Linked DNA regions of Homo sapiens. The protein of the gene in region 1 purifies or fractionates together with the protein of each later gene. This does not show direct contact. Each region holds a gene or a part of one and is shown in the gene's direction. Other genes may lie near its edges. The genes, in order: JPH4, CCDC14, POM121, MYO10, ZSWIM8, ARHGAP29 and VANGL2.

Region 1 (4,210 bases):
GCAGGGGCGAAGCTGCTTGGAGGGGAGGATCAAGGTACAGGACCCTGTGCTAGACCCCACAGAGAGGCCTGTGACTCCAGGGGGGTGAGAGGGGTTAGTAACAACAGGAGGTGCTAACTGCAAAGAAGGTGGTAGTATAGCTCATAAGCACCAAGCAGGACTGCAGGGGATGTGCTAAAAGAGTGAGGTCTCGACTGTCACTGGGAAGGGGGCAGGATAGGAATGGAATTACACAGTTCCAGGAGGGCCTGGCCCTTGCAACTGGAAGAAGTGTTACTACAGGACGTAGCAGTAGAAGGGTGTGAGAGGAGCAGGAGGGTGTGATGGTGGCAAACACAGCCCAGGTCAGGGGGAGGAAACCAAACGGGAGCTGCCCTGGCCTGCCAGGAAGGGAAGCAGCTGGCAGAGTGTGGCGAAGGGTGACGACTCCAGAGGAGAGGAGGATGTGATGTAGAGGGGACAGGGGCTAGGGGGCTGGAGCATCTGAGCAGGGACTAACTTGAAGTGGGGGAAGTTCTGCTAAATCCCTGTCTCTGGACCCGACAGGGCAGCAGACGCCCTCCTAAAGGCAGTGGCAGCCAGCAGTGTCGCTGAGAAGGCCGTGGAGGCAGCTCGAATGGCCAAACTGATAGCCCAGGACCTGCAGCCCATGCTAGAGGCCCCAGGTGAGGCATGGACAGCTGGGGGGAGGGCAGTGAGGCCCCTAGGGAGCTAGAGAGGCTCAGGTGTGGGGAAACAGATGAGAAGCCCTGCAAGGGAAGTGGGGATGGGAAAAAACAAGGAATGAGGGTGCAAGGAACACAGGGTGGGGGCCAGACCTGGTAGTCTGGGGAGTGGGACTTGGGAATGTATGCAGTAGGATAATGGGGGGTTTGGGGTCTGGCGGTGAGAGGCTATGAGCCTGGGAATTCCAAAGTCCTGGGAAGTGCCCAGTCAGGAATAAAGCTGCAGCCACTCCAGCCCAAGGCCAGTTAGGCCCCTCTGATTCTCAGCTATCCCTACCCAGGCCGCAGACCCAGGCAGGACTCAGAAGGTTCCGACACGGAGCCCCTGGATGAGGACAGCCCTGGGGTATATGAGAACGGACTGACCCCCTCAGAGGGATCCCCTGAACTGCCCAGCAGTCCTGCCTCCTCCCGCCAACCCTGGCGACCCCCTGCCTGCCGGAGCCCACTGCCTCCTGGAGGGGACCAGGGTCCCTTCTCCAGCCCCAAAGCTTGGCCTGAGGAGTGGGGGGGGGCAGGCGCACAGGCAGAGGAACTAGCTGGCTATGAGGCTGAGGATGAGGCTGGGATGCAAGGGCCAGGGCCCAGAGACGGTTCCCCACTCCTCGGAGGCTGCAGCGACAGTTCAGGAAGTCTTCGAGAGGAGGAGGGGGAGGATGAAGAGCCCCTGCCCCCGCTGAGGGCCCCAGCAGGCACGGAGCCTGAGCCCATCGCCATGCTGGTCCTGAGGGGCTCGTCCTCGAGGGGTCCTGATGCTGGGTGCCTGACAGAAGAGCTCGGGGAGCCCGCTGCAACCGAGAGGCCTGCCCAGCCGGTGAGATCCTCTGTCCCTGCTGTGTGCCCTCTTCTCCCAAAGCCTTGCCTCCCACCCTTTCCAGAACTGTCTGATCACCGGGGGGGCTTTTTATCTCACTCGGCTTCCTCTGCCTGGCCAGTCTTGGACCACATCCCACCTCAAAAAAATAGAGGGCGTTCGAGCTGGAAGGAACCTTACACACCTGCAAGCCCAACTCCCTCATTTGACAGATGGGGGAACTGAGGCCCAGAGCACTTAAAGTAACTTGCCCAGGCCGGGCGCGGTGGCTCACGCCTGTAATCCCAACACTTTGGGAGGCCGAAGTGGGCGGATCACGAGGTCAGGAGATCGAGACCATCCTGGCTAATACAGTGAAACCCCGTCTCTACTAAAAATACAAAAAAAATTTAGCCGGGCGTGGTGGCGGGCGCCTGTAGTCCCAGCTACTTGGGAGGCTGAGGCAGGAGAATGGCGTGAACCCGGGAGGCGGAGCCTGCAGTGAGCTGAGATCGCGCCACTGCACTCTAGCCTGGGTGACAGAGCGAGACTCTGTCTCAAAAAAAAAAAAAAAAAAAAAAGTAACTTGCCCAGGGTTGTAAACTAATAATTAATGGGAGAGCCAGAACATTTTTCCCCCGTTCTCCTTCCATATCATTTCCAGCTCTCAGTTTCCTACTCCACCCCCACCCCCACCTCCGCACTTTCTCTCTTTGGTGCCCAGAAATAAAAAAGGAAAAGATTGTTCCCTCCCTACCCTGACTCTCCCTCCCTCTCCCGGGAAGAAGTTGAAATAGAGAAGAAGGCAGAAAACCGGGAGAGGCGGAGTTTGCCCAGAACCCTCTACTCTGATTGGGCTCTAGGCCTTCTGTTTCCTAGCAACCACATCCTCACCCCTTCATCCCTCTGCCTTACTGCAGTACTGGCTGCTGCTGCCAATGTCTGCTACTAAGGCCAGGCACCTCCTGCCTGGGACACATGATATGCTGATGGGAGGGGACTAGAGGGAGGAGGTGGAAGGGCTGTCCCTGCATTGAAGGTGTCAGAGGAAAGGTGGGGCCCTGCCTGGGAGAAGAGGGGGTTTTGCAATCCAAAACAAATGTTGGCGATCCCCCTGCTCCAGGCTGTGCAGGGAGGTGCCTGAGACCCTTCAGCTCTGCCACCTCAGTCAGGGCAGGAAGGTGGGCCCTGTCCTCGGGGACTGAGTCTGCTTCCCCCTCTGTCTCTCTAGGGAGCTGCCAACCCCCTGGTGGTGGGAGCCGTGGCCCTCCTGGACCTCAGCCTGGCATTCCTGTTCTCCCAGCTCCTCACCTGAGGCTACTTCCTGGCCTGGTTCTGGCTTTGGTTGCGTGCCTCTTCACCCCTTTGACCTGCCTTTTTTCTCTTCTCCTCTTCCTGGCTGTGTTTTCTCCTATCTTTCTTTCTCTTCTTCCTTTCTTTTCTGTGCTCCTTTGTTTTTTTCTCTCGCTTTTTCTTTCCCTGTCTTCTTTCAGATTATCTCATTTCTTCTGGATCTGTCTCTGTATTCCTCACTCCCTTCCCCATCCCAACCCCTTCTTTCTCTAGATTGTTTACATATGAAGGGCTTTTCTCTCTCAGAGTTGCTGTCTTCTCTGAGACACACAAATCTAAGTCAGACCATTGCTCCACGCCCTCCCACCTTTTCTTTAGACCTCAACTTCGCTGCGGGTGGGGGTTTGGTGTCCTAAGGAGACTCCTGGAAGCTGAATGGAGAGGAGGAAGAAAATGAAGAAGGAGTGATTGAATGTCGGGCAAGGCACTGGCTGAGCTGCTGTGGCTCCCTAGCCTAAGGGGCCTGCTGTCCCTCTGAGGCCTAGTGAAAAAGCTGCAGGAGGTGCATCCTCCACCTCTAATCTTGGAGGCTATTATCTTACCTCCAAGCACTGAGCTGGGTTACTGCCCAATTCCATCCTTCCCTGAAGGAGAGAAGGGAAGTGAAAAGTAGAGTAACTCCCCAGCATTTCCCTCTTTTTCTCCTCATCGGCCAGCCCCTCCTCCAGCCCCCTCTGGTGGCATGCCATGCCAAGAGCAACGTGTAAAGGAACAGAGAATATCCAATGCAGTCAAGTCCACCCTGCCCAGACTTTGCCACTGACTTCTCCCACCCTTCTGTCTCCCCCATAATAGTTTATTTGGTTGGTCTGGACTCACTTGTGGCCTTTGATTAAATTCCTAAGGGGCCTGAAGAAGACATTTCTACTGCAGAGGGTTAGAGGCACTTGAGCAAGGCCCCCACATCCCAACTCTGGGAGTTGTGGTGGGAGGAGGCACTTCTGGGGGATAGGACCAGACAAGATAACAGGAGCTCACATGGAAGCAGAAGCTGTGACAAGTTTAGTAGTCCCAAAATGGGTTATATCCCTTCCCCCTTTACATCAGAATCTTGTGAAATGGGAAAACAACAGAAGGAGGGGATCAAAGATAGCTGATCTCACATGCTTCCCAGGCAGGGCAGAGGTGGGAGTCAAACCCGGGTGACAGGTGGGTGGAGAGCCCTGTTTGAGGTTGTGGCTGATCCCTCTCTGGTATTAGTTTTTCCCCTGGGAGCAGGAAGCCCTAGGAAGAGGGGACTGCAGGGTCCCCAGGGGATCTTTCCTCCCTCCCCTGCATGAGGCAGAGGCAAGCTGCCTGCCAACCCCCTCCCTCAAGGAATGGCCTTGCCCAGGAATGC
Region 2 (4,210 bases), on another chromosome or scaffold:
AAGGAAAGACCCAGGAATCAAGAGGAAAGGACTTGTGGTATGCTAGATGGCCATGGGCTATGATCTCACCCTCTATCATTTTAGATTTCAAAGTTAAAATATTTTAGAGGGCACTTTTCCATTTGATTTATTATAAAATTGTATTTCTGGTAAGAAATAGTATTTGCTTTACAAAAGTTTATTAACCAGTTTTGTTTGAGCTGATCAGATAGTGAAGGTAACTCTTATTACTTTTGATTTTAATCATCTCAGAGGGGACATGTTCAGAGGTTTATTACTGACATCAGATAGTATGATTTATGAATATGATATATTTACTTGTCTATTGTAAGAGTGCAGCTATTTGGTGATATTTAACATTGAGTTTTTACTGTGTGGTAGACATTGCTTTAAGAAATTTACAAGTGTTACGTCATTTACATCTCTCAATAATCTTATAAAATAGGCATTATTAAAATTTTTCTGATGAGGAAAAACAGGTCAAGAGAAGTTAATTTGCGCAAGGTTACTCAGCTAATAAGTGTTAAAGCTTGTATTTAGGTCTGGAAAGTACATTTATAGGAGTAGATCATCTGAAAAGGAAGCATACCCCAAGTCAAAAGGGAAGCATCTGATATCTTCAGCCATTTTCGTAGTCAAATATTGTCTTTTTCTTTAAATTTTTTTTCTATTTTCACTGGTTATAGTATTAAATCTGCCTTTAACTTTTTCTGTTTTTGCTTTTACATGGAAGTTTTACACTTTTAGTAATATTTTTATTTTCAATAAACTATATTTGAGGGATTCTCTACTTTTAAATTTTTAATTATTTTGTTTTTTAAAAAATTAAGGAATACTTCTCATAAATAATTTTAAAGTACATAAATCTCAATAAATTTTTGCATACGTATACACCCCTGTAGCCACCACCTAGATCAAGATACAGACAATTTTTAGCACCCTGCGAGGCTCCCTCCCTGTCAGTACCCTCACCATCACCTAGACCCTCATCCCTGTGTAACCATTTTCCTGACATCTGTTTCCATTTGTGACTTTTACCTGTTTGATGACTTCCTATAAATGTGATTGAACACTGTGCGCCCTTGTGTTTGACCACTTTCAGTCAGCCTTAAGTGTATTAAACATCCAGGTAGTTGTATATATCAGTACTTTGTTGGTTTTTTAATGCTGTATAGTATTCCAGCCTGCGAGTATACCACAGTTTATCCATTTCTGCTATTCATGGCTATTTGGTGTTTTCAGCTTTGGGCTACTGCAAATCAAGCTGCTGTGAACATTCTTGCACATGTCTTTCAGTAGACATAAGCACTCATTTCTATTGGTGTATACCTGGGAGTGGAATTGTTATTTCATAGAATATATGTACGTTTAGCTTTGGTAGGTGTGACAAATATCCATATATTTTTCTAAATTTATTTTGTATACTGATAACCTATGATTTACCAGAATATTTTCATTTCTGTTAATAGTGTTTTAAAAAACCTTTGGGAAGGGGACCTAATTAGGGAAATAGTATTCAGATTGTTATACCAATCTATAGGTAGTGCTATGTAGAAAACTTTGTTGTTTTTTACTTATTACTTTGTTAATACCGATTTCTACCTTGTTCATAGACTAATACTAGGTTCTGTAAGAGAAAACAATGAAGTACAGCCCTGCTTAGAGAAACTTGTGGTTTAGTCAGAAAGGCAGGAGGATGAAAGATAAGCAATATAAGGCAGTGTGTCAGTGGCATATGATTTCTATAGACAATATGTGCTCTAGGGTGGTGAAGAGTAGTCACTAGACTGGAATGATTGGATTGGAAAAGGCTTCATGGAAGAAGAAAACTCAGATGAGCCTTGGTGAGTGGGTAGAATTGGATTGGTAGGAATGGTTCATGAACAATGTTATTGGAAGGTGAGAAAAGCTTGTTGGGTAACTAAATTGGCCTGCCTGAAATGAAAAATTGGAGTTGGGAGTGATGGGGCGATAGTTGGAAAAGTAGCTTGTGGTCAAGCTTTGGAAACTTTAAATGCCAGGCCAAGATTTTGTTTGTTTGGTTGGTTTTGTTTTGTTTTGTTTTTGAGGACCCAAAGCATCAGAATTGTACAAACTATTCTCTTTCCTATTGCATTTTCCCTTGAGAACATGAACTGACAAGGAACAAGGTGAAGGAGTTTGACTGGACTTTAGGGATAATATAACTCCCTTAAAAGAAGTGTTAAAATGAAGGAGAGATTTTACAAATGGCAAGTAGCATAAAAAATGGGAATTGTAAAGAATTAGTATAGATGATTTTTGACTGGGGAAACTTAAACACTAATTACTTTCAGAAAGAATTTGAGATGATTTTCTTTAGTAGGGGTGATAGTGGTAAAGCCCTTCTATGAAGTATGTGATGGATTGGACTACTTCTGAGAGCCCTTTCTTCTCTTAAAATCTTACGGTAAAAGTTTTTGAAGAATCATATTTCAAGAACTTTTTTCTTCTTCCACATTAGCATCTTCAGATAATAAGAAACAGATACCTAATGAAGCTTCTGCTAGAAGTGAAAGAGACACATCAGACCTAGAGCAAAACTGGTCATTGCAAGATCATTATAGAATGTATTCACCCATAATATACCAAGCCCTCTGTGAGCACGTGCAGACTCAGATGTCACTGATGAATGACTTGACTTCAAAGAACATCCCTAATGGAATTCCTGCTGTACCATGCCATGCTCCCTCTCATTCTGGTGAGTACGAATGCTGTTTAAAAATCGTGAGTGTAAGTTCTAATTAAATTGCTTGGTTACTGTATAAAAAGTAGGATATGTGATTAATTTTTTCTCCCTCTTACTTACAGAATCTCAGGCAACTCCTCATTCTAGTTATGGCTTATGTACCTCCACCCCAGTCTGGTCACTTCAGCGGCCACCCTGCCCTCCAAAGGTTCATTCTGTGCGTACAGTTCTTATACTACATAAGTAACTATTTGCTTATAGCAGTCATTCAGGAGGGACTGTTGAATTTATTGCTTATAACTTAATGCACTAGGATTTAAAGACCAGTTGTTTATTTTTTTTTGCTATAAAAGTTTTACATGTTTATGGCCGAGCGCCGTGGCTAAACGCCTGTAATCCCGGCACTTTGGGAGGCCGAGGTGGGTGGATCACGAGGTCTGGAGTTCAAGACCAGCCTGGCCAACATGGTGAAACCCCACCTCTACGAAAAATACAGAAATTAGCTGGGCATGGTGGCACATGCCTGTAATCCCAGCTACTCGGGAGGCTGAGGCAGGAGAATTACTTGAACCGGGACCCAGGAGGCAGAGGTAGCAGTGAGTGAGATCGCGCCACTGCACTCCAGCCTGGGCTACAGAGTGAGACTCTATCTCAAAAAAAAAAAAAAAGAAAAGAAAGAAAAGTTTTACCTATTTATTAATGACAATAATGAAGGAGAAAGAGGGGAAGAGATCAGTAGGAGGAAAAAAATCAACCATACTGACCACCCAAGTACAACTGCTGTTGACACACTGATAGAGTTCTTTCCAATCGTTTAATCCTCTGTATAGGTTTTAGTTTCTGGTTTGTATTTGTTAACATTTGCTTTCCTTTTAAAATAAAGTTATAAGTCAACAATACAGTCTTATATACTGCTGCTTTCACTTAATACTTTATTAAAAACATGTTTATTAATATATACCCTTTGAATTTTTAATAACTTGTTAATACTGTATTTTTTGGATATACCATAGTCTGTGTAACTACTATATGGTTAGGAGTAGTAACCATATATTTGAGTTTCTTATAATTAATATTATTATTAATAAGCAAGTTTTTAATATCAGAAACTTACTAATATTTTTAGCTTAAAAGTAAGTTGGATTTTTTTCCTCAGTGCAATAAAGATTCTTGTTTTTTAAAGCTTAATTTACCCTGTAATATGGGAGCATTACAAGGCCATGACTAAAATAGACTGTTTACAAATACCACAGATGGTTTAAAAGCATCAAAAATTAGTCCACTTTGGGAAATTACATCATAAGAAAATAAGTTTAAACATACAAAAAGTTTTTGCACAAACATATTTACAGAAATGTTTCAGCAGTGAAAAACTGGCTGTTACTTAAATGTCTAACTGTATGGGAGTAGTTACACAGACTATAGTATATCCTCAAAATATAGTGGTAACTACTTATTAAATATTCACAAAATGAATATATTAATAAACATGTTTTAATAAAT
Region 3 (4,210 bases), on another chromosome or scaffold:
TTACAGGCATGACTAACCATTTAACCATAAAGAATGTTTTTTTAGTCACTTGAAAAGAGACTTTGTCGTGTTGAGGGTCAGATGCTAAGTTATCAGCAGGCTCAGTCATGTCCCTCTTGATTTTTAGCTCTGGAAGAGAAATGGCCCCAGTTCATCACCCTTCTCTAGCCCAGCCTCCTCCCGCTCCCAGACACCGGAGAGGCCAGCAAAGAAAATAAGGTACTTGGCATTCTCCTGCAGTTTTCATTTGCTGCGTGGACAGGCGGGGGTGAGGAAAGGTGGGAAACGAACCTGGCTCTTAGGCTTTGTGCTGCTGTGACTTGGAGAATCAAAGAAACTTAAGTCCCTGAGAGGTACAATGCAGTACCCACCCGAAGTGCTGTCATCCCTACAGTCTTGGATACTGACTCCAGTGGCCTCTGGCTGTCGCCTCCCACTCCAGCATGAGGGATCGGGTGCAAGCACAGAGGCCATGCAGAGTGGAGAGCAGAGAGAGTCAAGTCAGCGGGCAGTCGCCTTCAGGTTCTTGACTCGAGCTGACCCCCTAGGTGCTTGCAGTTGGCTGGAATGCCACTCCCTCAGGGATCACATCTGTGTCTAGAACTCCCAGGGACTTGATAGGTTGTAAGTAAGGTTTGAAGATTATTGTTTTGTGCTTGTTTTAAGACAAAAGCTGTCTTCATGGCCTCTGTGAACAGCCTCCCTTCATTCTGTTGGAATTTCCTGTTGACTTTTTTTATCCTGGCATACTGAGATCTTAAATGATGGTTGTTTTAGACATTGGCCACTTGGTAGTTAGGAGGGTGTGAGAAATTATTTAATACTTCAGCCAAGAAGCCTTTCTAGACTAAATTGTTCCTTTTTTCCTGACAGAGAAGAGGAGCTGTGTCATCATTCCAGTTCTTCAACTCCATTGGCAGCAGACAGGGAGTCCCAGGGAGAAAAGGGTAGGTTGCTGAGCCAGGAGGAGGGGCTGCTGTTGGTGGTGGAGGTGTTTGTGGAGGATGTAGAGATTAATACCTATTGAAAAAAGGTCTTGAGCATTGCTATGTCTAAGGCATGTTAGATACAAAGAGAGAGATTTCCTCTCCTTCAGAAGTTTATAGTCTGATGAGGGAGAAAGGCTACAGACAGGGACTAACGATTGGATAGAGGTAAGCTCAGTTTGAGTCACCTGTGGGTGATCCCAGTAATTACTGCACAGTAAGCGGTTTGTGTGCGCGCCTTAATCTTGCAAACACCATCCAAGCAACCAAACCATAGAAGATTGAATCTTTTCAGAGATACCCATTGAAAACTCAATGTGAAATGCGAAGTGGGTAGACACAACCATCCATTTCTGGAAGAGGGAAGGAAGCAAACGAGTCTTGATTTCTTTCTTTAGCTGCAGATACAACCCCAAGGAAGAAACAAAACTCGAATTCTCAGTCTACACCTGGCAGCTCTGGGCAGCGTAAGCGGAAAGTTCAGCTGCTGCCTTCTCGGCGAGGGGAACAGCTGACCTTGGTATGGTCTTGTCCATCTACTCCTGCCCTCCCCGGCTTAGCTCTCCTAAGTATTAGGAACGCTAAGGACAAGTTTCTTCTGATTTTTTTTCTAATTTATTTTTGTTTTTGTTTTTTGAGACAACATCCCTCTGTCACCCAGGCTGGAGTGCAGTGGCTCGATTTTGGCTAACCGTAACCTCTGCCTCCTGAGTTCAAGCAATTCTCCTGCCTCAGCCTCCCAAGTAGCTGGGATTACAGGTGCTTGCTACCACGCCTGGTTGATTTTTTGTGTTTTTAGTAGAGATGGGGTTTCACCATGTTGGCCAGGCCGGCCTCAAACTCCTGACCTCAAGTGATCCAGCTGGCTTGGCCTCCCAAAGTGCTGAGATTACCGGTGTGAGCCACCATGCCTAGCCTTCCCGTTTTTTCTGATTGGCCTGACTTCTTCTTTTTCACTTTGGTAGCCTCCACCTCCCCAGCTTGGCTATTCGATCACTGCCGAGGACCTAGACTTAGAGAAGAAGGCTTCATTACAGTGGTTCAACCAGGCCTTGGAGGACAAGAGCGGTAAGGAGCACAGATTGTTGCACACTGGAGAGGTTTCAGGTGTCTGTTTTCTTTGGTTTTATTTTGGTGTTTGAAAAAATGGGTTTCTCTGGGAAAATCCCAAGTAGGGTTCCATGTTTTCTTGTGGTCTTTCTCACCTGAGATATCCGTGTTGGTCTTCACGGGAACTGGACAGCAGGGACCACTGCAATTGAGGGCAGGCATTCCTCCATGAGCTGTGCTGAGAGCCTGCTCTCCGACAGGCATGTGGAAAGAAGTCCCAGACAAGCCAGGACTGCTTCACCTTTCTTTCTTTCTTAGATGCTGCCTCGAACTCTGTCACTGAGACCCCACCTATCACTCAGCCTTCATTTACCTTTACCCTGCCTGCTGCTGCACCTGCCTCCCCACCCACCTCCCTCCTGGCCCCAAGCACCAACCCACTGTTAGAGAGCTTGAAGAAGATGCAGACTCCCCCGAGCCTGCCACCCTGCCCAGGTGAGCTGGAGTGGGGCCGTGGATCCAGCCTTCTGAGCAGCATCCCCGGCTTGAGTTGGAATAAGGGCGTCGTGCCTGTCAGTCGCTGGAGATTGCTCTGCAGGCCGAACGCACCCTGGCTCAGCACACCGGAGCGGGCCCACGTTTAACAGCGCCAGAGCCCGCATCAGGAAGTGTTAGAGAAGGGGTGCTGCGACGCTCAGGATCTGAAGCCTGGCTCGTAGCTGCCCTGAGCCTCGCCTTCCTCATCTGTCAGATGAGAATGATCTTCCCTGTGCGGCACCTCTGAAGTGTGAATGTGGTGGCGTGGTCAGGATATCCTTGCCTGTCAGAACCACTGGTCCAGAACAGCACTGCTTCCTTTCCCTCCAGCACTTCGAGGGCTGCTGGTGTTCCCGGCCCAGGCCTTCACGGCACTGCGCGCGCACACCTCTTTATCAGACGGTAACCTGGGGTTCGTACGCACCCTCCCTGCTCAAGGGCAGAGACTTCCCCATTCATAGTTGTGTGCTCTTAGCGCCTGGCAGGTGAGCTTAGTAGGCAAATAAAGTATATCTAGATTCATACGTGAACTTCAGAGTTCAGACAATTGGACTGTCTTAGTCTCTACACATTAGGCCCCCATTTAGGCCCCATTTTATCCCCTTCTGTCTGATGATCTGTGAGGTAGAAATAACACTTCCTTGATTTACTGTACAGGCCTGTAGTGTAGACTTAGCTGAGTTTATTGACTGACTCTTGGATCCCAGGCTCTGTGGTAGGCGTGGGGAGGACACTGAAATACTGAATACCATCATCTTTGAAGTGTTTATTCCAATTTCACATTTTCTATTCTTCTTCCAGAATCTGCTGGAGCAGCAACCACTGAGGCCCTCTCACCTCCAAAGACACCCAGCCTCCTACCCCCGCTGGGTTTATCACAGTCAGGGCCGCCAGGGCTGCTCCCCAGCCCCTCCTTTGACTCCAAACCCCCGACCACTTTGCTGGGGCTGATCCCTGCTCCATCCATGGTACCAGCCACTGACACCAAGGCACCTCCAACCCTTCAGGCAGAGACGGCTACCAAACCCCAAGCCACATCTGCCCCGTCCCCCGCCCCCAAGCAAAGCTTCCTGTTTGGAACACAGAACACCTCACCTTCCAGCCCTGCCGCCCCTGCTGCATCTTCAGCACCTCCCATGTTCAAGCCCATTTTCACGGCTCCACCCAAGAGTGAGAAGGAAGGCCCCACACCGCCTGGCCCTTCAGTCACAGCCACAGCGCCCTCCAGCTCCTCCCTCCCCACGACCACCAGCACCACAGCCCCGACCTTCCAGCCTGTCTTTAGCAGCATGGGGCCACCTGCATCTGTGCCCTTGCCTGCTCCCTTCTTCAAGCAGACAACTACTCCCGCCACTGCTCCCACCACAACTGCCCCGCTCTTCACTGGCCTGGCCAGCGCCACCTCTGCTGTGGCTCCCATCACCTCTGCCAGTCCATCCACAGACTCTGCTTCGAAGCCTGCGTTTGGCTTTGGCATAAACAGTGTGAGCAGCAGCAGTGTGAGTACCACGACCAGCACCGCCACTGCCGCCTCACAGCCTTTCCTCTTCGGGGCGCCCCAGGCCTCTGCTGCCAGCTTCACCCCGGCCATGGGCTCCATATTCCAGTTTGGCAAACCTCCTGCCTTGCCCACAACC
Region 4 (4,210 bases), on another chromosome or scaffold:
AGAAAGATAACAGGAAGAACAATTTAAGAGGATGTGTTTATGATCCAATTTCTGACCTATTACAATTGGGTAAAGCGTAGTGAATGGCTGAGGTTTTAGTGTGCATCACAAGAGTATAATTTCTCTAAATCGGTATAACCAGCGTGTTAGTTTGCTAGGCCCACCACAGCCAAATACCACAGACTGGTGGATTGAACAGTGGAAACTGATTTTCTCCCAGCTCTGGAGGCCGGAACTGCAAGATCAAGTTATCCTTAAGTTTGATGTCTTCTGAGGCCCCTCCCCTTGGCTTGCAGGTGGCCGTCTGTCCAGTGTGTCCTCACGCAGCCTTTTTTCTCTGTGTGACCTAGTCTCCTGTTCCCAAAAGGACACCAGTCATCTTGGATTGGGGCCCACCCTAGTGAACTCATTTTAACTTAGTCTCCCCTTTAAAAGCTGTATCTCCAAATGCAGTCACATTCTGCAGTATTGGGGTTAGGACTTCAACCTATAGACTTTATGGGGACACAGTCCAACTCATAATGACCATATTTCATCCTGGTTGCAAAGCGGGAGCTATGCTTGGACTTTTGTACTGAAGCCTTCTGAAATCTCCCTTCTGCTTCTGTCCAGGAAGAAGAAACGAGGAAGCAGCAAGAACTCGAAGCCTTGCAGAAGAGCCAGAAGGAAGCTGAACTGACCCGTGAACTGGAGAAACAGAAGGAAAATAAGCAGGTGGAAGAGATCCTCCGTCTGGAGAAAGAAATCGAGGACCTGCAGCGCATGAAGGAGCAGCAGGAGCTGTCGCTGACCGAGGCTTCCCTGCAGAAGCTGCAGGAGCGGCGGGACCAGGAGCTCCGCAGGCTGGAGGAGGAAGCGTGCAGGGCGGCCCAGGAGTTCCTCGAGTCCCTCAATTTCGACGAGATCGACGAGTGTGTCCGGAATATCGAGCGGTCCCTGTCGGTGGGAAGCGAATTTTCCAGCGAGCTGGCTGAGAGCGCATGCGAGGAGAAGCCCAACTTCAACTTCAGCCAGCCCTACCCAGAGGAGGAGGTCGATGAGGGCTTCGAAGCCGACGACGACGCCTTCAAGGACTCCCCCAACCCCAGCGAGCACGGCCACTCAGACCAGCGAACAAGTGGCATCCGGACCAGCGATGACTCTTCAGAGGAGGACCCATACATGAACGACACGGTGGTGCCCACCAGCCCCAGTGCGGACAGCACGGTGCTGCTCGCCCCATCAGTGCAGGACTCCGGGAGCCTACACAACTCCTCCAGCGGCGAGTCCACCTACTGCATGCCCCAGAACGCTGGGGACTTGCCCTCCCCAGACGGCGACTACGACTACGACCAGGATGACTATGAGGACGGTGCCATCACTTCCGGCAGCAGCGTGACCTTCTCCAACTCCTACGGCAGCCAGTGGTCCCCCGACTACCGCTGCTCTGTGGGGACCTACAACAGCTCGGGTGCCTACCGGTTCAGCTCTGAGGGGGCGCAGTCCTCGGTAAGTACCTGCCTGGCGTGTCCCAGTGAAATGGGTGGCCGGTCACACCCACCCCTGTTGCATCCTCAAGTTGAATGAAGATACCCGTAGGATATCTGTGCAAAGATTGCAGAGTCGTGGTCTTAGAGATCATCTTAAACCTTTTGCTTATTCCATAAGCCAATTGCATTCATAAGTAGAACTTTGATGTGCCTGTTTCAGTTTTAGCACAAAGCCTAGAGCTGAGCTGTGCCCAAGACTTCAGAAAACTGGCTATTTATTTATTTATTGTTGTTGTTGTTGTTTTTGAGGTGGAGTCTTCTCTGTCATCCAGGCTGGAGTGCATTGGCAGGATTTTGCCTCACTGCAGTCCCCACCTCTCGGGTCCAAGCTATCCTGCTGCCTCAGCTTCCTGAATAGCTGGGATTACAGATGCCCGCCAGCACACCGGTCTAATTTTTGTATTTTTAGTAGAGATGGGGTTTTACCATGTTGGCCAGGCTGGTCTTGAACTCCTGACCTCAGGTGATCCACCTGCCTCGGACCCCCAAAGTGCTGGGATTACAGGCGTGAGCCACCATGCCCGGCTTAAAACTGGCTTTTTAAATGGAACTTTTGTTTATTTTATTTTATTTCTTCCTTCCCTTTTTTTACAATTTGAATGGAACTTTTAGCTTTGCCGTGCTGCGTTAGGAAATGAAGACACATCCTGAACTGGAACAAGACTTGCCAGGGGTGAACTGGCAAACTTTCCTTGTACTAACTTCACAATCCAAACCACACGATGTTATTTCTTATAGTGGCTGTAAAGGAAGAAGCTGCAGGGCTTAAATGTACTCTTTTCCAGTTTCTGGATTTATCTGTAGTTTACTTTTATTTTGTCGCTTTGGTCGTGCATTGAATGTTCTCTTGACTTTCAAAGATTTGAAAATATATTTAATATAGTAATTCAGAGGGGGTGAACTCTTGCATGGTTTGATTAAAATTATAGCCTTAAAAAGCATTGTTAGTTTTAGGGCAGATAGCCTTTGGATTCAAGTATATCTTGTCTTTCATGTATCAATTCAACTGACCATTTGACCTTAAAAGTTGGTATTTTTAATTCCGAATTATTTGTGTGCTACCGTAAATCAGGCGTATTGCTTGTCAGTTGTTTTTTTTCTTTTTCCTTTTCCCTTTTTTTTTTTTTTTTTTTTTGAGACTGAGGCTTGCTCTGTTGCCCAGGCTGGAGTGCAGTGGCACGATCTCTGCTCAGTGCAGTCACTGCCTCCTGGGTTCGAGTGATTCTGCTGCCTCAGCCTCTTGAGTAGCTGTATTTTTGTATTTTTTCAATGATGATACATGCTGGGTATCTTCGTGGCTTGCTTTGTGGCCTTTTCCCTCACCGTTGGCTTCTCTCTCTCGGTCCAGTTTGAAGATAGTGAAGAGGACTTTGATTCCAGGTTTGATACAGATGATGAGCTTTCATACCGGCGTGACTCTGTGTACAGCTGTGTCACTCTGCCGTATTTCCACAGCTTTCTGTACATGAAAGGTATGACTGCAGCCGCCATGGAGTCTGGGTTAGGGGGAGAGCGAGGCGTTATTTTATCCGGGCTGATGGATGGCGGTGGGAAATAACGGAGGTGTTATTGTATCTGGGCTGATGGATGGGGACTGGGAAAGTCGTTCTACCTACCCTTACCTCAGTGTTGGGCCACTTAGATGAATGAAGGGACACCTTGTCATGTTGGTGTGACATGGGTGCTGTGGTCCTACCAGCATGAACACAGTCGTGACTCCCCTGGTTTGGTGCAGAGTGGCAGGACGAAGCATTTGCAACCACTGCCTCCAGTATCAGTCCTTCTCCCCTGTCTCTCCCTGTCTCGTTTTCCTTTCTTAGCTCTTTCTTCATCCTTCTATTTTCTCTCCCTCTCTCTCCCACTTTCTCTTTCACTGTCTCCCTCTCTGTCTCAGTCTCATTGCTCTCTCTCATATATACAGACATACAAACCAATGTGTGTGTTGCTGCTGCTGCTGGAATTGGTCGAGACCCATTCTCATGATAAACTGCATGTTCTCGGCCGGGCGTGGTGGCTCACGCCTGTAATCCCAGCACTTTGGGAGGCCGAGGCGGGTGGATCATGAGGTCAGGAGATCGAGACCATCCTGGCTAACACAGTGAAACGCCGTCTCTACTAAAAATACAAAAAATTAGCCGGGAGCGGTGGCGGGCTCCTGTAGTGCCAGCTACCTGAGAGGCTGAGGCAGGAGAATGGCGTGAACCCAGGAGGCGGAGCTTGCAGTGAGCCGAGATCGCGCCACTGCACCCCAGCCTGGGCGACAGAGCCAGACGCTGTCTCAAAAAAAAAAAAAAAAAACTGCATGTTCTCTCCTGCCAGGGATATTAGAGAGCCTAAAAGGATGTGCTAGACATGGGGGAAAGTGAAGATCTCACTGAGGCCCACTGCTGGCTTGAACTGCTCACCATACCTACTTCATGATGAGCATTTGCATTGTATGCTTTGATTGTTACTAACATTTGAGTATACTTTGCTGAACCTTAACACTTAGGGGCCTTGAGGCACACTCCTTTTGGAAAATTATTTACTATTTATTTATCTATTTATTTAGGTATTTATTTAAGACAGGGTCTTGCTCTGTTACCCAAGCTAGAGGGCAGTGGTGTGGTCATGGCTCACTGCAGCCTTGAACTCAGGTTCAAGCCATCTTCCTGCCGCAGCCTTCATAGGAGCTAGGACTG
Region 5 (4,054 bases), on another chromosome or scaffold:
TTGCTGTCTTGGGAATTATGACTACTCTCAATCCCCATAAGGTCCTCTTTCTCGCAGGCATGAAGACAACAGTGAGCGAGGCAGAACATCCCCTCTTATGTGAAGGCACACGTCGGGAGAAGGGTGACCTGGCATTAGCACTAATGATCACTTACAAGGACGACCAGGCCAAGCTTAAGAAGGTAAGAGACTGGGGCTGGGTGCGGTGGCTCATGCCTGTAATCCCAGCAGTTTGGGAGGCAGAGGCGGGCAGATGGCTTGAGCCCAGGAGTTTGAGACAAGCCTGGGCAACATGGCGAAACCCCGTCTCTACCAAAAAATACAAAAAATTAGCAGCTGGGTGTGGTGGCACATGCCTGTAGTCCCAGCTACTCGGGAGGCTGAGGTGGGAGGATTGCTTGAACCCAGTAGGCAGAGGTTGCAATGAGCTGGGTTCACGCCACTGCACTCCAGCCTGGGTGACAGAGCAAGACCCTGTTTCAAAAAAAAAAAAAAAAAAAAAAGGCAAGGTACTGGGGCCTTTGACAGGCAGAGAAAGAGAGCACATTTTACTACCTTTCTCAGGGAGTTTCCAGTACAATGAGAAAAGTGCTATTTTAGGCTGGGTGCAGTGGCTCATGCCTGTAATCTCAGCACTTTGGGAAGCAGAGGCGGGAGGATCGTTTGAGACCAACCTGGCCAACATAGTGAGACCCTGTCTCTACAAAAAATTAGAAAATTAGCCGGGCATGGTGGCGCGCGCCTGTAGTCCCAGCTACTCGGGAGGCTGAGGTGGGAGAATTGCTTGAGCCCAGGAGTTTGAGGCTACAGTGAGCTATAATCATACCACTGCACTCCAGCCTGGGCAACAGAGCGAGACCCTGTCTCTTAAAAAAAAAAGAAGAAGAAGAAAAAAAGAAAAGTGCTCTTCTGCCCATAGGAGGTAAGTAGGGAATCTTGGGGACATCTCATAAAGAATAAGAGAAGACCAATGGTTCTTATAGGAGTGCTTGGGCATGGGGTGGAAGAAGAGAAGCAGAGGGCATAAAGTCATTCATTCACTTATTTCAGTATTTATTGACTATCAGTATATTCTGCCCTGTGGTGTTAATGGAGGATACCAAGATATGTTGGGGTTAAATAAGTTACAAAAAGACATGTAAACCAGGAGGTCATCCTGTGGTTGTAAGTGGGGAAGGCTCCCTGAGGATGTAGCAATTGGCTGTTTCAAGGAGAAAGGAAGGTAATAGAAGTCAGGAGCTAAAGGGCATCCTGTCACTGCTTCTCTGGAGGTCACTGCTTCTGTCTTCCAGATCTTAGACAAACTCTTGGACCGAGAGAGCCAGACACATAAGCCACAGACGCTGAGTTCTTTCTACTCATCTAGCCGCCCAACCACAGCCAGCCAGAGGTCTCCTTCAAAGCACGGGGGCCCATCTGCCCCAGGGGCCCTGCAACCACTGACCTCAGGCTCTGCAGGGCCTGCTCAACCAGGGAGTGTGGCAGGGGCTGGGCCAGGCCCCACTGAGGGCTTCACAGAGAAGAATGTGCCTGGTGAGGTGGGGGCACTGGGCAGGGGGGATGAATGGTGTGGACCTATGTTGAGGTCCCCTTTCCTGGGCTCATCCCAGCGTCCTGTTTTCCTCACCTAGAGAGTTCCCCACATTCCCCCTGTGAGGGTCTTCCATCTGAGGCAGCTTTGACCCCAAGGCCAGAAGGGAAGGTTCCTAGCCGCTTGGCACTTGGCAGTCGTGGAGGCTATAATGGACGGGGATGGGGGTCCCCAGGACGGCCTAAGAAGAAGCACACAGGTAGGATAGCCTGTGGGCTAGCATAGAGGGAAGGATAATCCTGAAGGTTGGAGTCTTAACATCTGGGACTCCTGACTTCTGAGACTGACTTCTCTTGGGGGTTAGGCATGGCCAGCATTGACAGCAGTGCCCCTGAAACAACATCGGATAGTTCCCCCACCTTAAGCCGGAGACCACTTCGAGGGGGCTGGGCCCCCACCTCCTGGGGTCGAGGTCAGGACAGTGACAGCATTAGCAGCTCTTCTTCGGACTCCCTGGGCTCCTCATCCTCCAGTGGAAGTCGCCGGGCCAGTGCCAGTGGAGGAGCCCGGGCGAAGACTGTTGAAGTTGGCAGGTCAGTGGGAAGAACTCCCCATCTTCCCTGATCTGGCCCACCCTCAGAGCCACACCCCTAGTGCAATCCAACCATTGTCTCCCAGCATCCTCACTTTCCCTGGTCCTTCCCAACCTACCCGGATGCCCATTTCAAAGAAACCCCAACCCCCGTCCCTACCCCATTGCCCCTTCAGGTACAAGGGCCGCCGCCCCGAGAGTCATGCCCCTCATGTACCCAATCAGCCATCAGAGGCAGCTGCACACTTCTACTTCGAGCTGGCGAAGACAGTGCTGATCAAGGCAGGGGGCAACAGCAGCACTTCCATTTTCACACATCCATCTTCCTCAGGGGGCCACCAGGGTCCTCACCGCAACCTGCACCTTTGCGCCTTCGAGATTGGGCTTTATGCCCTTGGCCTGCACAACTTTGTTTCTCCCAACTGGCTCTCACGTACTTATTCTTCCCACGTTTCCTGGATTACAGGTAAATCATTTGACCTGACTTGGGTATGGGAGGGGGATTAATTGGTGGGGATAAGACCCTTATCTTTGTGGGGTTACTGATCTGATAAAAAGACATTATTCTCACACCCCAGTGGTGCCCACACTAACCCAACTCTGCCCTTCTCTCCTTTCCCCTAAGGCCAGGCCATGGAGATAGGCAGCGCAGCCCTGACTATACTGGTAGAATGCTGGGATGGGCACCTGACACCCCCTGAGGTTGCATCCCTGGCTGACAGGGCATCACGGGCAAGAGACTCCAATATGGTGAGGGCGGCAGCAGAGCTGGCCCTGAGCTGCCTGCCTCACGCCCATGCATTGAACCCTAATGAGATCCAGCGGGCCCTGGTGCAGTGCAAGGAACAGGTATTTCTACGGGCAATCTGGGAACCTCTTCTGGGGCATCTGGGCAGGGAGGTTGGGCATGGGAAAGCTAAGGGCCCAGCTCTTGATTCCCGTATCCTGGAGTTTACAGATGATTGTTGGTCCTCTCATGGCAACATTTTACCCATTAATGTGCTTTCACACCCATCTTTCCTTTACCTTACAACTCAAAGGTTAGGTTTATTTCTATTTTACAGATAAGGAAATGGAGGCCTACGGTTTAGGGACCAAGATGATCACTCAGGATAGAAAACTTAGGGAAGGCCTCATACATCTAAGACTTGAATGGGAGGGGGCTGTTAAATTAGTTTGGAACTGGGACTATAACCTGGGTCTTGACTCATTTTGGTCAGTATTTACTCAGTGTGTGAAGCACTCACTGCTCTGATAATGGACTCTAAGCATTGACACTGACCTCTGATGATTCCCTGGGAATGAGACAGCTCTGAGGGAGACATTGGAATCTCATCTAACACCTTCCATGTGGTAAAGGCCTTTCCCCCTTAACACTCTGTGCCCCTCTCTTCCAGGACAACCTGATGTTGGAGAAGGCCTGCATGGCAGTGGAAGAGGCAGCTAAGGGTGGGGGCGTGTACCCTGAAGTGTTGTTTGAGGTTGCTCACCAGTGGTTCTGGCTGTATGAGCAAACTGCAGGTGGCTCATCCACAGCCCGTGAAGGGGCTACAAGCTGTAGTGCCAGTGGGATCAGGGCAGGTGGGGAAGCTGGGCGGGGTATGCCTGAGGGTAGAGGGGGCCCAGGGACTGAGCCGGTTACAGTGGCAGCGGCAGCAGTGACAGCAGCAGCCACAGTGGTGCCCGTCATATCGGTGGGGTCTAGTTTATACCCGGGTCCAGGACTGGGGCATGGCCACTCCCCTGGCCTGCACCCCTACACTGCTCTACAGCCCCACCTGCCCTGTAGCCCTCAGTATCTCACTCACCCAGCTCACCCTGCCCACCCCATGCCTCACATGCCCCGGCCTGCCGTCTTCCCTGTGCCCAGCTCTGCATACCCACAGGTGAGACCAGTGTTCTGCTGGGGGGTAAGGCATGGGAAAATACTG
Region 6 (4,210 bases), on another chromosome or scaffold:
TTTGTTTTTGTTGATGGGAAGGAAGACTTAGATATAATAATAATGCTCAAAAATTGCCCTAGATTCATTTTAGAAATGATGTATGCATATAAGGATTAATGTTAGATAGGTTTGAAACTAGTTTAAATGTAGAAGTTAGATTCTCAGAAATAATTTGAGATTGACAAAAGGACAGTGAATAAACAAACTTTAAAAATTATAAAGTGTGGTCCCCAGTTTAATAATCAGGAGGAGCAATAATAGAAATCCAACTTTGATTTCAGTTTTATGTAATCTTCCCTCAGCTTCATATACTTTTCTTTTTGAAACATACCATTTTAGAGAGTTTTTTAAAAATTTATATTTTCACTTCAAAACATTGCAACAACCCAGAGTTATTTTTGTTTCTATAAAAATTAATTGAAACTTTATAAGTTTATAAGCCTATCTGCAGATAGTTCTAAGTAGTTCATTCCTCATACGCCAAGCATTGTGCTATGATCAGAGAACACATGGTTAGCAAATAGACATACATGGTCTTGATTTCCATGAGATTATACTCTAGCTAGGAAGACATGATCTATTTGAACTGTGGTATGAGCAGTGATGAAAAGTAGAGGATACTATGGAACATCTCACAGGAGATTCTACTCTGGTTTGATGGTAGTGGTTTTGCTGGGGGATGGGGATGGTCCAGGAACGTTTCTTTGAGGAGGTAAGCTTTGAGCTGAGATCAGAGTGAGTAAACAAAGGAGAAGGAATATTCCAGGCAAATAGAATTACATATAGACAGGACCCTGAGCTGAACAGTTGGTGTTTTTCAAACTGTAGGGTCATGACCTATTATGTGTATGAAACCAAGTTGGTGAGTTGCACCCAGCATTTTTAAAAATGAAATGGGATGGAATTTTTAAAAACTCACATACATCCCATGGAGCCTTACCCAGAAGCATGCCACACACAAACATAATACACTTAACATGTATTATTATGTAAAATTATTTCCTGGTGAGAGTCATCGTAAACAAATACTGTTGGAAGAATGAGAAGGAGGTGTGTGTGGCAGGAGTGTTGAGAGCCAGCAGGTGTGTCTCCATATGACATTGCACAGGTAGGTAGGAGCCAGATCTCATGTTGAGCCTTGTAGAGCATGATAGCTTCTCACTTATACTTTGGAAGGGTTTTCAGTAGAGAAATGACATTATGAGATTTATGTTTGAAATGTTCACTCACTACATTTGTGATGAGACAAGAATGGATGCAGATAGATCATTAGGAAAGTAGTATAGTAGCTCAGAAAAGAAATGATGGTAATTCACTAGTGTGGTAGCAGTAGAGAGAAGTGGGTTGATTAGAGAACCCTGTAGATCAGAAAGAAAAATGAACTATGGAGTTGGGTGAGATATAGGAAGGAGTAAATGATACAATAATGTATCTTACATATGACTAGAAACGGATATTACATAAAACTTCCTAGTGGGCCAGGCATGGTGGCTCATGCTTGTAATCCCAGCATTTAGCTAGGCTGAGGTAGGAGGATCACTTGAGCCCAGGAGTTTGAGACCAACCTGGGCAACATAGTGAAACTGTATCTCTACAAAAAAAAAATTTTTTTTTTAGCTAGCTAGGTGTGGTGTTGTGCCCCTGGAGTCCCAGCTACATGGGTGGCTTTGGCGGGCAGATGGCCCGAGCCCAGGAGTTTGAGGCTGCAGTGAGCTATAATCACACCACTGCACTCCAACCTGGGTGATAGCGTGAGACCCAGACTCAACCCTTCCCCCCTCCAAAAAAAAAAAAAACCAAAAAACTTTCTACTGTAAATTTTATAGAAGTCCTTAGTCATCTACCATTTTTAAAGTAGCCAAATATTCAAGACAAAATACTTGAAAAAAAGTGTTAATAATAAAGTGTGAGTTAATTTAATTCCTCCGGTTATTTCCTTTTTGATTTCCAGAGATACAAACAAGATTAGAACTTTTAACTCTGGAAAGGTAAAATGAGGGTGAAGAAGAAAATAACTATGATTTTCTTGAGTTCCAGCTATGTGCCAGTATTAGGTGTTTTAACATATGAAGTCTTCTAATTTTGTGATCCCTTTTCATCCTCACACAAGCCTGTAAATAAATTGTACTGGTCACATATCTAGAAAATACTAGAGCCAGGATTCAAATCTAAATTCTTCTCATACCAAAAGATTACCTTTTTACTACCATCCTGAGATTATCAAAAATATTGCTCTGATGATCACACGTGTTTATTTAACCAGTCAGAGTATGTCAGATTAGTGGGCACCCTTGTAACTTATTTTCAACAAAGAAATATCCTTGATGAGACTTGGTAATCCAGGATGTGTTGTGTGTGTGTGTCTGTGTATATGTATGTATATGCATTATTAGGAAAAACTAACTGTAATTGAACTTCTATGTTCTCGACACTTCTGTATCATCGCGTCATGTAATCCCTACAATCTCATGAGATAGGTGTTGTCAGGATGTTACTCCCATTTTATAAATGAGCATACTGAAGTAAAGAGATGAATAGATCATACAATAAGTGACAGAGGAGGATTTTAAGAACAGGTATTTCTTTTTTCAAAGCCCATATCTCATCTTTATTTTTGAAGGTGATGTCATGGAAGGAGAATATGACCTTCTACTAAGTGATGTTTCAGAACAACTTTTACAATTAAATAAAATTCTATACCCTAGGAATCAAGAGGAAGTTATTAAGAGCATGGATTTTGGCATCAAGGCAGATACAGGTTTAAGTCCTAGTTCATTATCAGTTGAGAGCTTAAGGCAAATTTTTAACCTCTAAACCTCAGGTTCCTCATTTGTGAAATGTAAAGAACAGTAGTTTGCATGTCAGAGTTGTCGGAATTACTGGTATTTAATAAATGGAAACTGCTATTATCAATAATACAGTGATTGATTATTGATTTTTGATTTTTAAAAATTTAAAAATAGGATACCAAGGTGAGCTGTGGGCTGTTTGTGAAAATCTAGTGTAATATTTCCCTGGCTGATTTAGTTTTTGTGTTTCTTTCTCTCTCCTCGCTTGTTTTTGTTTTGTTTCTTGCCCCCTTAAGGATTTCAGTTTTTCTGACTGTTACATGAAAGGATGATTGCTCACAAACAGAAAAAGACAAAGAAAAAACGTGCTTGGGCATCAGGTCAACTCTCTACTGATATTACAACTTCTGAAATGGGGCTCAAGTCCTTAAGTTCCAACTCTATTTTTGATCCGGATTACATCAAGGAGTTGGTGAATGATATCAGGAAGTTCTCCCACATGTTACTATATTTGAAAGAAGCCATATTTTCAGGTTTGTCACTTTTCTATTAGCATTCTTGCTGGATAGTTTGTAAAATTTTAAATGCTGGCCTAGCAGATAAGTTTGTACACAGTGGTAGGAACAGGGTATTCTGCTTTAGTTATTTTAGTGCTTTTTTCCCCAAATCTTTGATGGTTACAGTGTAAACTATTTTATAATCAGATAATAGTGTAATACCTAATAGAAACTTCAGTGTGAGGGAATAAGAATACAAAAAAGAAAAATATCTTTGATTCCTGTGGTTGGGTCCATTTGACGTAGGAAAATTTGACATCATTGGAATTTTAACCTTTCTGTTAATGGTAACACAGTGCATTGATTGGTCTTAAATAAGCTGACTAATGTTTATAATTTACATTGTTGACACTGTTACCTAAATTCACCTTTCCACATTTTAGATGAAGTTTTGGTATCTAAAATGACTGCATTTTTTTTTTTTAACAAAAATCAGACTTAATTCTGTTTTGCTGATCTGTAACATCTTGAATTAAGGGCTAATCACAGAATTCTGTCTAGTTAGAAATGAATAATGGAGCATGAGACTCTGTTCCTCTAAAGTAAAAGATTGTATATCTCTGACTTGTTCTTAGTACCTGTCTTTCAATGTTTAGTGCCTCTTAGGTCTAAATTTGATGGCAAGGATAATAAATAGTTACAAAAACAGCTCCTATTCTTCTATGATAAATGGCAGTTTCATTTCCATATTCATAATGGTATGTCTAGATATAAAAATGAAGATTCTCAGTGTTATTTATATGAGACCTCTTGGGGCTTTATAGAAATTTGTAAGATTTCAATAAATATTTCTATGTATATATATAAGTTAAATACTTATTTTCTGATGGACATTTTGAAAAACCAAAATTGTATCTTGTGCTTGTACTAAATTTAAGAGTT
Region 7 (4,210 bases), on another chromosome or scaffold:
CCACCTCAAAACACTGTTAAATTTCTGGCTGCCTTGAGACCCCACTCTTCTGGCTCCCCTCCTCCTCTGGCCTTCTCATCCCCTTTGCCTGCTCCTTTTCCTCTGGACATGTCTACCTATTGGGGTCCTTTATGTCCATGGAAGAGTTAGGTTTTGAACTCAGCTGGATCTGAGTTCTATCTATCCCCATAGCTTTTCACACACTCAGTACCTCCAGCTCAGACTGTCCTCCAAGTCTGGCTCGTCTGACACCTGGCTGCCTACTGTCTCATGGCCACTAACTTAGCAGGCTAGAAGCTGAACTAATTATCTTCCCTCACAAGGCTGCTTCCTCCCCAGTCTTCCCTACCCTACTGATGGTGCTACCATCTGCTCCCTTGCTCAGGCCGGGGATTCTTAACTCTCCCTTCCCGCTCATTAGGTCCTGTTGATTTGACCACCAACATTAAGTCTCAAACATGACTGTTACTCACTCTTCTGTGGCTCTACCCTTAGCAAGCCTGTACTACTGCAGTCGCCTCCTTATTGATCTCCCTGTTTCTATTTTTCCCTCTTTTCAATCCATATCTGCATAGCTAAAATCCTTCAAAGTTTTCCTGTGGCCTTAGAATAAAATAAAGCTCAAGCTCTTCACCTGGTGCCTGGCTGTCTCTGCAGTGCCACCTTCTACCACCCACTCTCTTCCTCAACTCTAGCTCCACTGGCCTTTGTTGGTTCTTTAAATACAACAAGCTCTTTCCTGCCTTTGGCCTTCACACATGTGATTCCTCTGCTCCATGGGCATTTTCCTGCACTCTTTGCTTGGTTAATTCCTATTTCTTCTTCAGGCCTCTGCTGAGGTGTCCTTTTCTCAGACTTTCTAGAACCGCTAAGTTTAAAGTGGTAGCCCTTACTCCATGGGTGTCTCTCATAGTTTGCTGTTCTGCCCTTCCATCATGCCTGCAATCGGTCGTTTATACTTATCTGCTTACTTGTTTGGTGTGCCCCTTCCCTGCTAGACTGTAAACTCAGGGTCTGTTATACCACTTTATACCTAGCAGAATACATGGTTCATAGAAGGTGCTCAAACAAGATTTGATGCGTCAATGACTGAAGATAGGAAGTAAGCGCTCGGTGGATGGTGATGGCTGTTAGGGGAGTCAGGGTCAGCAGGGAAGATAACATTGGGTCTAGAGTAGGTGGGGGCTCCTATGAGGGGGTGGGGCCGGGCTCTGAAGAATGAGCAGGATTTGGGTGGGGGTTAGAGAGAGGAGAGGTCATTCTCCTCTGCAGAATCAGAAGGTGAAGTATGGTTGAAGATAAGCCTATAAATAGGCAGATAAACTTGTGCCTTGCCTGTTTCAGAACTTCAGGCAAGTAGAAACTTGTCTTCTCCTCCCATCCCCTACCATATTATCCATAGTTTCCACCCCTCACCCTCACCTGGGGCTGTGCATATGTGTGGCAACCTCAAGGAAGCTGCCAGCCTGATCTTACCGGTAACACTGGGTGTGTTTGAAGTAAATGCTGGGGAGATGGTATCAAGGGAAGCAGCCCACTGTGGGCACACTCAGAAAGTATGAGTGAGGGGAGGAGGTGTAGCATGGGGAGAAGAGGCCTGGGGTAGCCCCTGGACAGAAGCCCGCTCCTTTCTGCTCTCTGAGGTGTCCACTGATTCAGCCTGTTGGCCTGGCCAGAACCTGCCCTCTTCATGCCTCGGTTTCCCTGGCTGAGAATAGGGAAGCAATGCCCTGCTCCTCCCTTCCAGAGGGCTTGGGGTTGGGTCATTCTGGGTGAGCCTTCCTGCCCTGGGAGCCTTTGCTGGCCATCTTCCCCCATGCCTGAGTCCTTGGCACAGCCTGGCAGGGCTCTTTCTAGAGAAGGGTAGGAGGAACTGGGCCCAGTGGACAGCAGGAACCTGGGTGGAGATATTCTCAGGCTATGGCTGGGCTCATTTGAGCCTCCTGTGGCTGTTGTGTGCAGATGGTCTTCCTCTGCCCTGACCCCACAGGGAGCTCGAGCCGCCTCTAACTAGCTTCTTCCTCTCACCAGGAGCGTCGCTGGATTTTCTCTGAGACAAGCCCACCCGTCCAGCAAAATAGAGTCCCTCAGGGTGACAGTTGACTTCCTGAAGGTGCCTCTTGGCCTAAAGAAGCCGGTGCTGAAGGAGGTGGCTGTGGGGCCCCCCAAGAGGCCCCAGCCTGCGGCCCTGGAGCGCTACAAGGCGCGGCGTTCAGACGCCATGGACACCGAGTCCCAGTACTCGGGCTATTCCTACAAGTCGGGCCACTCCCGCAGCTCCCGCAAGCACAGGTGGGCAGGCATGCAGGGTGACATGCGTGGCGGAGGGAGGGTTGGGGGCTGTTAAGAGGTGGGCACGTGCAGGGGTGGTAGGGTAGAGTGGCTGCTGAGAAGACCCTGGTCCACCACTGGACTTTCTGTGCCTTTTCTGGCTTCCTGCCGCAGGGACCGCCGGGACCGACACCGCTCTAAGAGTCGAGATGGGGGCCGAGGGGACAAGTCGGTGACAATCCAGGCTCCCGGGGAGCCCCTGCTGGACAATGAGTCCACACGAGGGGATGAGCGGGTGAGCACTGGGGATGCGGTGGTCCAGACCGGGCATTTTCAGACTGCTCCTGAGGGGCTGGAGGCTCCACGGAGTGGGGGAGGGCTTGGAAACCTGGTCTCAGACAGCCATCAGATCGGGGAGTGTGTTTTGTGTTACACTTAGCTTGGCTTAGTGTCTTAAGGTAGGACCTTCAGGAATTTCAGTATAGAGATCCCTCTGGAAGCAGCAGCCTCTCCTTCCTTATCTCCAGAGGAGTGGGGGGTGACCTGGGCTGTATGATGGGAATTGGCCAGCTCCTCTGGAGCTGCCGCCAGCCAGTCAGGCCCGCTGGGAGTCTGGAGCAGGAGGGTGGTGGTGGTGGCTGGGCCTGGGGTATGTGTGAGCAAAGCTGAGTATTCCTGGAGCCTCGAGATGTGGGCACTCTGTGCCCTCTGGTGTCAGCCTGTAGAATGGCGTCACCTAGATCTTGGGAAAGGAGTATGGGAAGAGTAGATGGAGAAAGCCCAAGGGACAAGAAGTAAGGCTGAGGGATGGAGCAGGGACCCCAGGAGAGAGTTCTCCAGGACAGGGGTGAGCAGGTTTTCTATTCTAACCTCTGCTGCCCACTGTGCTCACCTGGTAGGGAGGACAGTGGGCAGAACACAGTCCTGGAATAGGGCAGAGGCAGGATTTTAGGTGACACTGAGGTTGCCCAAGTCTCATTCCCCTTGGGATCATCTTTGGGGGCTGGAGATTCCCAGCTCCTTTTTCCTCAGAAGAAATCTCTGTGGCTGACATTGGGAATTCCTGGGCCTTGGGAGCAGGTCAATACCTGAAGGAAATGTTCTTTTTCCCTCTCTCCCAATCCCTTCTTCCTGGGGCCTGGCCTCCTGAGTTCTTGAAGTGACCCTGAGACATGACCAGCTCACCTGCTACTGGGGAGGAGATCCCAAGCCCTTGGTCCTTGGAGGGGGTGGGCAGTATGTCTAGGGGTCAGAGGGCGGGGAGCAGACCCAGGGCTTTGAGCTGAAGGCAGTCAGTGCATCTGCTTTCTATCTTCACATCAGACTCGTTCCCCATCCTGTAGAGAGGAGGTTCCTCAACCTCCCTAATCACTGGTGCTGTCGGGCTGCCTTCATCCTGTAACCTCAACCTCCTGGGTGTCAGGTTGTGATTCCATATCCCCAGGCTGTCCCAGGAGCGAAGGGTGGGTGCTGAAGGCAGCTGGTGGTCTTGGGACTCCTCCGTGGGATGGCCTCCAGCCACTGCAGAGAAACAGCTTGAGCAGACCACACTTAGAGGGACACCTGGGGACCTCAGCCTGGCCACCTTCTTGCCTCCAGAGACAGGTAGCCTCTGCACTGTAGACATTTAGATGGCCCAGCAGAGGTGGCCTTGCAGACCAGAGACCCAGAGTGGCCTTGAGTCTGCACAGTGTCCTTCACGCCTTCACCCCTTTACCCCTGGGGTCTTCTGTTCTTCTCTGTGCTGCTTTGATCAGGTTTACTCCTTCAGTGGCTCTCCATGCCTGGAGAACAGGTGCTTATTGCCCAGCCCAGCACTGCAGCGTGGCCTGCACAAGCCCTGCCTGGCTGCTGTCTGCCTTACCTTCCTGGTTGCACCTTGCTGTGCTTCTGCACAGGGATCCTCTGCTCTCATAGCCCTTGGGTGCCTCAGTTCATG

What was found.
Region 2: the proteins of JPH4 (region 1) and CCDC14 purify together in Homo sapiens (affinity purification with mass spectrometry; 2 studies listed by BioGRID and IntAct, with this or other methods). This does not show direct contact.
Region 3: the proteins of JPH4 (region 1) and POM121 purify together in Homo sapiens (co-immunoprecipitation; 3 studies listed by BioGRID and IntAct, with this or other methods). This does not show direct contact.
Region 4: the proteins of JPH4 (region 1) and MYO10 purify together in Homo sapiens (affinity purification with mass spectrometry; 2 studies listed by BioGRID and IntAct, with this or other methods). This does not show direct contact.
Region 5: the proteins of JPH4 (region 1) and ZSWIM8 purify together in Homo sapiens (co-immunoprecipitation; 3 studies listed by BioGRID and IntAct, with this or other methods). This does not show direct contact.
Region 6: the proteins of JPH4 (region 1) and ARHGAP29 purify together in Homo sapiens (co-immunoprecipitation; 3 studies listed by BioGRID and IntAct, with this or other methods). This does not show direct contact.
Region 7: the proteins of JPH4 (region 1) and VANGL2 purify together in Homo sapiens (affinity purification with mass spectrometry; 2 studies listed by BioGRID and IntAct, with this or other methods). This does not show direct contact.

The regions. Positions count from the first base shown.
Region 1 is NC_000014.9:23,568,257-23,572,466, reverse strand, and holds part of JPH4 (junctophilin-4), read left to right. Parts: intron 1-546; coding exon 547-665; intron 666-1,006; coding exon 1,007-1,539; intron 1,540-2,749; coding exon 2,750-2,833; 3' UTR 2,834-4,210. UniProt on the Homo sapiens protein: Junctophilins contribute to the formation of junctional membrane complexes (JMCs) which link the plasma membrane with the endoplasmic or sarcoplasmic reticulum in excitable cells.
Region 2 is NC_000003.12:123,947,405-123,951,614, reverse strand, and holds part of CCDC14 (coiled-coil domain-containing protein 14), read left to right. Parts: exon of another isoform or gene 1-2,482; coding exon 2,483-2,719; intron 2,720-2,829; coding exon 2,830-2,924; intron 2,925-4,210. UniProt on the Homo sapiens protein: Negatively regulates centriole duplication. Negatively regulates CEP63 and CDK2 centrosomal localization.
Region 3 is NC_000007.14:72,938,463-72,942,672, forward strand, and holds part of POM121 (nuclear envelope pore membrane protein POM 121), read left to right. Parts: intron 1-127; coding exon 128-219; intron 220-873; coding exon 874-947; intron 948-1,384; coding exon 1,385-1,506; intron 1,507-1,951; coding exon 1,952-2,054; intron 2,055-2,354; coding exon 2,355-2,531; coding exon of another isoform or gene 2,532-2,549; intron 2,550-3,374; coding exon 3,375-4,210. UniProt on the Homo sapiens protein: Essential component of the nuclear pore complex (NPC). The repeat-containing domain may be involved in anchoring components of the pore complex to the pore membrane. When overexpressed in cells induces the formation of cytoplasmic annulate lamellae (AL).
Region 4 is NC_000005.10:16,698,241-16,702,450, reverse strand, and holds part of MYO10 (unconventional myosin-X), read left to right. Parts: intron 1-612; coding exon 613-1,488; intron 1,489-2,877; coding exon 2,878-3,001; intron 3,002-4,210. UniProt on the Homo sapiens protein: Myosins are actin-based motor molecules with ATPase activity. Unconventional myosins serve in intracellular movements. MYO10 binds to actin filaments and actin bundles and functions as a plus end-directed motor.
Region 5 is NC_000010.11:73,795,482-73,799,535, forward strand, and holds part of ZSWIM8 (zinc finger SWIM domain-containing protein 8), read left to right. Parts: intron 1-57; coding exon 58-182; intron 183-839; coding exon of another isoform or gene 840-922; intron 923-1,032; exon of another isoform or gene 1,033-1,292; coding exon 1,293-1,533; coding exon of another isoform or gene 1,534-1,538; exon of another isoform or gene 1,539-1,631; coding exon 1,632-1,790; exon of another isoform or gene 1,791-1,895; coding exon 1,896-2,124; intron 2,125-2,299; coding exon 2,300-2,589; exon of another isoform or gene 2,590-2,748; coding exon 2,749-2,972; exon of another isoform or gene 2,973-3,520; coding exon 3,521-4,009; exon of another isoform or gene 4,010-4,054. UniProt on the Homo sapiens protein: Substrate recognition component of a SCF-like E3 ubiquitin-protein ligase complex that promotes target-directed microRNA degradation (TDMD), a process that mediates degradation of microRNAs (miRNAs).
Region 6 is NC_000001.11:94,230,501-94,234,710, reverse strand, and holds part of ARHGAP29 (rho GTPase-activating protein 29), read left to right. Parts: intron 1-3,067; 5' UTR 3,068-3,099; coding exon 3,100-3,304; intron 3,305-4,210. UniProt on the Homo sapiens protein: GTPase activator for the Rho-type GTPases by converting them to an inactive GDP-bound state. Has strong activity toward RHOA, and weaker activity toward RAC1 and CDC42. May act as a specific effector of RAP2A to regulate Rho.
Region 7 is NC_000001.11:160,413,617-160,417,826, forward strand, and holds part of VANGL2 (vang-like protein 2), read left to right. Parts: intron 1-2,031; 5' UTR 2,032-2,221; coding exon 2,222-2,292; intron 2,293-2,445; coding exon 2,446-2,566; intron 2,567-4,210. UniProt on the Homo sapiens protein: Involved in the control of early morphogenesis and patterning of both axial midline structures and the development of neural plate. Plays a role in the regulation of planar cell polarity, particularly in the orientation of stereociliary bundles in the cochlea.